3 separate regions of the Homo sapiens genome follow, and regions 2 and 3 are each linked to region 1. Evidence: fine-mapped expression QTL. A gene starts in region 1. Each other region holds a variant in brackets. All regions are shown on one strand. Distances are from middle to middle. Region 1 holds the start of DST (dystonin). Region 2 overlaps DST (dystonin). Region 3 overlaps DST (dystonin).

What was found. PIP is the estimated chance that this variant, and not a neighbour inherited with it, causes the effect. A credible set is the group of variants that fine-mapping cannot tell apart.
Region 2: its variant is the best candidate, but not a certain one, in a credible set for the expression of DST in whole blood (INTERVAL, PIP 0.59).
Region 3: its variant is the best candidate, but not a certain one, in a credible set for the expression of DST in whole blood (TOPMed, PIP 0.89).

Annotation. Positions count from the first base shown.
Region 1 is chr6:56,953,606-56,956,365 of GRCh38, forward strand. DST (dystonin) reads right to left here and starts at 1,225. Exons shown (of 104, transcript NM_001374736.1): 1 at 802-1,225; 2 at 180-214. The coding sequence starts at 982. BEND6 (BEN domain containing 6) reads left to right here and starts at 1,502. Exons shown (of 7, transcript NM_152731.3): 1 at 1,502-1,855. RefSeq lists an enhancer at 208-839 and a silencer at 1,001-1,690.
Region 2 is chr6:56,768,158-56,770,917 of GRCh38, forward strand. All of the region lies in intron 4 of DST (dystonin), which reads right to left. Among named protein-coding and RNA genes, the nearest start is that of DST-AS1, 74 kb to the right of the region's middle. The variant C/T (reference allele first, on the strand shown) is at 1,140.
Region 3 is chr6:56,757,780-56,760,539 of GRCh38, forward strand. The region is part of intron 4 of DST (dystonin); the gene reads right to left. Among named protein-coding and RNA genes, the nearest start is that of DST-AS1, 85 kb to the right of the region's middle. RefSeq lists a silencer at 1-17 and an enhancer at 1,699-2,255. The variant A/C (reference allele first, on the strand shown) is at 1,039.

The DNA.
Region 1 (2,760 bases):
AAAACCGTTCGCTGGGCACTAATATGAAATCACTTAAAAGGAAACATGCCACTTTCGGCTAGGGGACAGCATGTTCGTCATTCAGTGTCCTACTGGTTTCTTAACACGCATATAATTAATATTGGTACTCAGGAAAGAGAACTTCTTCTGACCTTGAGCGTGCGCGCTAAATAAATTACCTCAGAACGAAAGTGGTGCGATCTCAAAACAGCATCTGGGGAGAAAAGAGATAAATGAGACTTCATTTAACTCCTTGTTCTTCACCTACCGAGTGACTCATGACTTACCTGGGAGACCAGGGTTGGGAAAGCACATCGCAGACTCCTGGAATTCGGTGGGACATCCTGGGGGAGGGAGGAGGAGTCCTGGGGCCATCGGTCTCTACGTGATTTCTCCGCGAGAAGTTTGCATGAAAGTTCTGGGGGAGTTGGGGAGCCCCGAAGTTTCCATGCCTTACTTTCTTACCCCTACGCTCCAGCGAAGGATGCGTGAAGGCGAGGCTGGCGCAGCCCCGGACTACGCTCAAATTACCCTTAAGGCTTTAGCAAACTGACTAAAAATTTGAGTTCTTTCCTCCCCTCCCTGCCCTCGGCATCGCCGTGGTTATTCAAACCTGGGAGACTGGAGGGCGGAGGTGACGGCAAAAAGGGCAAGGGGCGTTAAAGAAACGCACTCAGCCTGGGGAGTGGGCAATGATGGGGCTAGGGGCAGCCGAGGAGAAGGGAGCGAGCCGCGCTTCACTCTCCAAATCGGCTTAATTGTTCCTGGTAGCCCGCAGAAACCCGTCGCGGCGTGTCTTACCTCGGCTTCTTGAACGACCCGAGAAGACCGATTTCATCGGATGCCTCCCTTTCTGGAGCTTGCGGTGCCAGCAGCAGAAGAAGACGATGGTGGCGATGGTGCCCAGCAGAAGCAACAAGAGGAAGAGGGCACATTGGATGCTGTAGGGTCTCAGCAAGACGAGGAAAGCCGCGGCGATCATGGTGCGGGCGAGGCGAGGGCGACTCGACGGCGGGGCTGGAGGGCGGCGGCACAGGCACCCGCGCTGGGCGCACGCCGGGACGGCGGGCACGGGTGAGCGCGGCTCAGCGCGTCATGCCTGGCGCTCGCGGCCCCGCGCCCAGCCCAATGGCTGCGCACCCCGCGCCAGCCGCGCTACGCGAGTGATCCAGGGCTGCGGGGAGCGCTTGCCATGACTCAGCAGACAGCGACGAGGCTGCGACTCGGCGGCTGGGATCCTCTCCCCTCCCTCCCCAGGCGCCCCCGCCCCCGTCCGTGCGCAGCCCCCGGGCGCAGCCCCGCCGGGGACGCGGCGAGTGGGGAGGAGCAGCGCCGCCGCCGCGGCCGCCCGGGCCCCGCGCATCGTCCTGCGGCCGCCGCCGACCTCAGCATCCCAGAAGCCGGGCGCACGTGGGTCGGGGCGGGGACGCGGCGCTCAGGCTGCAGCCGCGGCAGCCTGCGGGGGGCGGGAATGGGGCGCCGCGGCGGGGGCTCGGCTGATGACATCACGGCCAGGCTGCGGCAGCGCGGGCGCGCGGACATGGCTGCGGCGGTTTCGGCGGCGTCCGCGGGCTGCACCCGGGCCTGAGAGCCCAGCGCCCTCCCGCGGGGCCGCCCGCCAGTCCGCGCCGTCCGCGGGTGCATTGGCCGGGTGCCTCTAGCTTCCCGGACACCCGGAGCTTCCGCCTATCCAGCCTCCCTCGGCCAAATTGCTGCGGAGCCCGTCGTCAGGGGGCGCCAAGGAGCCAGGGGGAAAACCGAGAGGCGCTGACAGGAGCCTCCCGGCGGTGCTACCCTCCACCTCCCACCTCCCTGCGCCCCGCCCCGAGGTTGGGGCTTTGAAGAATGCAGCCGGGTGAGCTATTGCTTGTGGGGGTTTCCTCGCACTCTGAAGCGCGAGCGCCGGGAAGGGCCTTCCCTGGGAATTGGGATACTCCAGGAACGGGAGGCCCACTCCTCTCCAAGCCTCTCTAAACTAGGAGCGCTCCGGGGTAGTACGCTCTGGTCGGCAGAGGTGAACTCTTCCACCCCAAACTTGGTGCTTATCTCGCAGCTAAGAATTGGGCACTTTCGATCTTCTTGTATCCCTGGGTTTGCCCTAAAACCCTGACTCATTTAGTGCATTTGAAGGGCAAGGCGATTTCAGATTTAGGGACCTGGCAGATGAAGTAAGTTGGTACTTGGCTTATAAACATTTGGGGGAGAAATTTTTTAGGGAGTGTGAGGCAATAGTGATCTCTCACACTTGCAGGCACACTCTGTCTCCCCTTTGTCCCCTCCCCACGTTTCTTCATAACCAGCAAAAAGTATATGGCAGTTGGTGGCCAGGGGATTTAACACTGATGCAATGCCAGCACGGAAGGTATAGCGAGAGCGCTGCAGTGTGCCTTTCTGCGGACGGCCACGGCCACCTGGCCAGGAAGCGGCTGCTGCAGCAGTCATTCTGCGGCATCTTGCGGCCTTGGCGGGCGGTGCTGTGCCGCGTTCTGCTGCCCCCAAGGCAATGCTGGCTTTCCCTGTGTGGGGCTGGATTGTTTGTTTCATTTACTCGCATAAGAAAACTTTAATTATAGTGACAAGGTAACACTTGACTGCATTTGCGGAGTTTCTTATAACAACTGTATTAGCCTCTTTTTTGGAATATTTAATAGACTGAAGAAATTGTGTCATAAAAATTTATAAAAATTTGAAAAGCAGGTAAATAATTGGGAGGAATAAAAGTTTTATTTGCTTGTAGTGATCTCAAAATCAGTGTTGTTT
Region 2 (2,760 bases), 190 kb before region 1:
GAAAAAGTTTCTCAACACAGAATATTTACCAAGTGCTTATTTCTAAGGTATAAAAAATTATTCCAACCTAGAATAGACAACACAATCCCAGAAAATAACAAGTTGAATGACTAATACTACCCAATTTCAATACCTATTATAAAGCTACAGTTGTCGAAACAGTGTGGTTTTGGCAAAAGAAAAGTCAAGTCGACCAAAGGAACATAACAGAGGGCCCAGAAATAGACCCACACAAATTTAGTAAAGTGATCTTTGACAAAAAAGAAAAAGCAATTCAACAGAGAATGGATAATCTTTTCAACAAATGGTACTGGAACAACTGGACATCTATATGCAAAAAATATACAAATTTAGGCACAGACCTTATACCTTTCACAAAATTTAACTCAAAATGAATCACAGACTAAATGTAAAATTCAAAACTATAAAACTTTAGGAAGATAACATAAAAGAAAATCTAGATGACCCTGGATTTGATGATGAATTTTTAAATACAATACCAACATCATGATCCATAAAAGAAAAAACATAGGTTGGATTCATTAAAATTAAAAACCTCCACTCTGCAAAAGACACTGTTAAGAAAATGAAAAGATAAGCCACAGACTAAGAGAAAATATTTGCAAATCATGGCTGGGCACGGTGGCTCACACCTGTAATCCCAGCACTCTGGGAGGTCAAGGCAGGCGGATCAAGAGGTCAGGAGATCAAGACCATCCTGGCCAACATGGTGAAACCCCATCTCTACTAAAAATACAAAACTTAGCAGGGCATAGTGGAACCAGAGAGTCAGAGGTTGCAGTGAGCCAAGATCACACCACTGCACTCCAGCCTGGTGACAGAGTGAGACTCCATCGCAATATACACATATATTTGCAAATCACATATATGATAAAGAACTAGTATCCAAAATATACAAAGAAATCTTAAAAAATCAATCATAAGAAAGCAAACAACTCAGTTTAAAAGTGGGCAAAATATCTGAACAGACAGTTTACTAAAGGAAATATACAGTTGGCAAATAAGCATATAAAAAGATGCTCAACACCATATTAGAGAATTGCAAATTAAAACAACGTGAGACACCACTATACACATCTATTGGAATGGCTAAAATCTAAAAAGATTACAACACCAGA[C/T]GCTGGCAAGGAGGTGGAGCAACAGAAACTCTCTTTAACTGATGGTGGAAATGCAAAACAATACAGCTACTTTGAGTTGTTTCTTACAAAGCTAAACATAGTCTTACCATATAATTCAGCAATTACACTTCAAGGCATTAACCCAAATGATGTGAGAAGAGGAAGGATGCGGGAACTCTGTACTTTCTGCCTAATTTTTCTGTAAACTTAAACTGCTCTAAAAGTCTATTAAAAAAAAATTGGTCAGGCACGGTGGCTCATGTCTGTAATCCTCACACTTTGAGAGGCCAAAGCGGGTGGATTGAGTCCAGGAATTCAGGACCAGCCTGGGCAACATGGCAAAACCCCATCTCTACAAAAAAACACAAAAACTAGCCACGTGTAGTGGCAGGGACCTGTAGTCCCAGCTACTCAGGAGGCTGAGGCAGGAGAATCACCTGAGCCCGGGAGGTCAAGGCTGCAGTGAGCCAAGATCACGCCACTGCACTCCAGCCTGGGCAAGTGGCGTTGCAAGTTGAGACCCCGTTTCACAAAGAAGGAAAGAAAAAATGTATTCCTGTCCTCAAAAAGCTTATTCTCTTATTACTTTATTATCCATACTCTGCCCACTTCCAACATGGAGTTAACACATACGAAAAGGATACTAAAAGTAGAAATAAAATATCAAAACTCATGTGTAAGGAAATCAATACAGTTACATCAAAATTTTGGCTAAAGAGTTATTTATTGATGTTCCTTTGCTGACTTCCTTCAGTCAAGCCTCACTATATGTTCTCATTGCATATGAATCTGCCCTTCAGAGCATCCATTCTGGTGTTATAACTTAATCAGTGTCTAAACAGCAGATAAGACTCCTAAACAGCAGATAAGAGAGTTTAATGATGCAATAGTAACCAGGAAACCATTAATTTGGTAAAGAAACTGGGGTACAGAGAAGTTAGACAAATCATGAAAAGTCCCACTTAAAAATGGTACAGCCAGGTTTTCAACATTTGGTCTGTTTGACTCCCAGGCCTCATGGTATTGGTGTTACGCCATAAAGTATGATATAATTTTTGGACCTAATGTTATCTTCAAGTTGTAAAAGGCAGTGACTCAATAAAAATAATTTAGTTAAGCTGAAAATCAGCTGAATTTAATTTATAAAGATCATAATTTCTCCTAATTTCAAACCCTGCTAATACAATAAAACGCAGAGTGTGGGATGCCCTATTTCATTCCATGCATCCACATAGAGTTGGGGGCTCAGGTTCACTACTGGATAAACTAAAAGTTGGCATCCTCAGTCAATTTACCTGAGTGCTGCAACATAATAAGGGTTTGAAATGATGAACCAGGATTTTTCCCAGGCTAGTTTTTGCTACACCTGTAAAATGGGACTCTTACAGTAAAACCTGCTGCCTTTAAAAATGAAAACAAAGGGGCTGGGCACAGTGGCTCATGCCTGTAATCCCAACACTTTGGGAGGCCGAGGTGGGTGGATCGCCCGAGGTCAGGAGTTTGAGACCAGCCTGACCAACATGGAGAAACCCCGTCTCTACTAAAAATCCAAAATTACCTGTGCATGGTGGTGCATGCCTGTAATCCCAGCTACTTGGGAGGCTGAGGCAGGAGAATAGCT
Region 3 (2,760 bases), 200 kb before region 1:
TAAGTCTGCAGGAACAAGAAGTAAGGAGCCTCTGTGGATGGTGGCTATAACCATGCCAGTCCTGGACTGCCTCCTGCTGGACTTCTCTCAAGTAAGAGAAAAGTAAACTTCCTTCTCTTAAAGTTACTATTGTTTCATTTTCATGTGCAAAATAGAACCAATATTAGCCAACCTAATCCTACCCACAAATACAATGCTTTCCAACAAACCTACTACTAAGAGCTCTTTGAAATGGAAAATTTCCCAGGAAAGAAACAACTACCATTAATACAGCACAAAGTAAAGAACTTGGTATAATCAAGCGCGTACAACTGTAGCAGAAACTTTTCCCCATATCCTTGTATCCTTCTTTCTCAAAGAAACAAATTCTCTAATTATTAGCTAGGTGCAAATACACAAGGAATAAATACACATTTCCCAGCCTTCCTTGAGCTAGATGTGGCTATGTTCCAGTTCAGCTGTGGCCATTGAGATGAGAACAGAAGTGACTGTGCTACTTCTGAGGAGGGCCCTTGAAGGGGAATACAGTGCCTTTTTTTGTACTTCTTCAATCCAGATGGCTGGAATGCAGATGTGGTGGTGAAACATCTAAAAAAACATGTAAGAGTAACAACCTAGATGGCAAAGCAATGTGACAAAAGGAACCTGGGTCCCTGTTCCAGTTACTATGTGACAAACTACACTGGAATTCAACTATGAAAACCAACCATTTTTTTATGTTCAAGAATTCTGTAGGTCAGAAATTCAAACCAGGTACAAGGGGGGCAGGTTGCTGCTGTTCCATGATGTCTGGGCCTCAGCTAGTAACACTCAACAGCTGGGTGGCTTGACCACTGGGGACTGGAATCATCTGGAGGCATCCTCACTCACATGGCTGGTGGCTGATGTTAACTATTGGCTGGAACCTCATTTGAAGCAGTCAGCGAGAACAGCCACAGGTGTCATCTACATGTGGCCTGACTTTCTCACTGAATGGCAGCTTCAAGGTAGTCAAACTACTTTGTGGTAATTCAAGGTTCTAAAAGCAACGGACCCAGC[A/C]GCAAGGCAGAGGCTGCATCACCTTTCCTGACATAACCATGAAAGTCATGTGGTATTCTACTGGTTACAAGAGAGCCAGGTGCCCAACCAGATTCAACCAGAGTGCACAATGGGAAAAGCAGCAAAGAAGTTGCACACATGTTTTAAAACCCATACAGCGCCTGACCCTGAGCATCATACCAGCCCTGGCTGACCTCATGAAGCTGAGCTGCATTATCATCCTGCACTCCCCACCTCTCGACTGCTACATAAGTGGAAATACAAATGATCATTTAAAGCCACTATTATTGTGGGTCACTGCAGCAAATTTATAAAGAATACTTATGTACCCCAATATTTAAAAATAAATCAGCCCAGGCGCAGTGGCTCACGCCTGTAATCCCAGCACTCTGGGAGGCCGAAGTGGGCGGATCACTTGAGGTCAGGAGTTGGAGAGCCTGGCCAACATGGTGAAACCCTGTCTCTATTAAAAAGACAAAAAAAATTAGCCAGGCATGGTGGCACATGCCTGTAGTCCCAGCTACTCAGGAGGCTGAGGAAGGAGAATTGCTTTAATCGGGGAGGCAGAGGTTGCAGTGAGCCATGATTGCACCACTGCACTCCAGCCTGGGTGACAGAGTGAGAGACTCCATCCCAATAAATAAATAAATAAATCAAAAACCACAAGTAGCAAAAACGTCTATCTCAAGAAACTAATTTTACAGCTACAGGAATGACTTTGTAGTTTTAATTTATTTGATATTATTAACTGCTGGCATATTTTTTTCCATTCAAAATTTTTAATGACTATCAGAGACCTCTAATATATTACAATCCCTTTGTCAGTCATTTGCATGCTGCCAGTTTCCCTTCCTGGTTTGGTGCACTAAGGGGTTTCTGAGCTCAGACAATAAAGATGCTGACACAGCCAAGGAACTGCAGCCTGAAAACAAAGAGTTCCAGAGGCGCGTGTGAATCTGACTGGATGTGTCCTAAAGCCTCTCATTAAACAGCTACTCCCCATCAAAGACACTACACTCTAGGCAAGGCAAAGAGCACTCCTTCCACCTGCCATTCTTGTCCTCTAAGCAAAGTGAGTCCTTGAAGAATCTAATAGTTTCACAGAATCATTTTGTGGTCCAACCATAGAGTATGCACTGCATATGTCAAAATCCTTTTATTTTTTAAATTAACAAATAATAGGATTTCTATCTCCTTATACCCACTCAAAAAATAAAAGCATATAAAGGATATTTTGGTTCTTCCATGTCCCCCAAAAGCAAAAAAGAAAATAACTTTGAGAGAACACAAATTTAAAAGAAAATTGCACAAGTCTGAACATTTCTAAATATATTCAAAGACACATATCTAACTTTGAAATATGTACCTAGAGGCAAATAATTTAATAGCAAATCCATAGAATGAACTGCTAAGAAATGCCACATGATTAAGCCATGTTTTGGGGTAATATGGGTAAGGACATTAAACAACTTTGAGAATGAATTATTAAAATACACCTTTTAATGTATCTTATTTAAAACTTATTTAAAATTAGTTTCCAGCATCTCTTAATACTACTTTATTTTTTGTATGTCTCTCCATGTGTATCAGCCACTAAACCCCAGTAAGACCCACTGTGTAATGATGCTTAATCTTCTTCCTTTTTAAACTCTAATGTGTATCAGCTTTCAGATATTTATGAGCTCAGATCTTTTGGCCAGAATTTGGTTAAGTAAAAAGCAA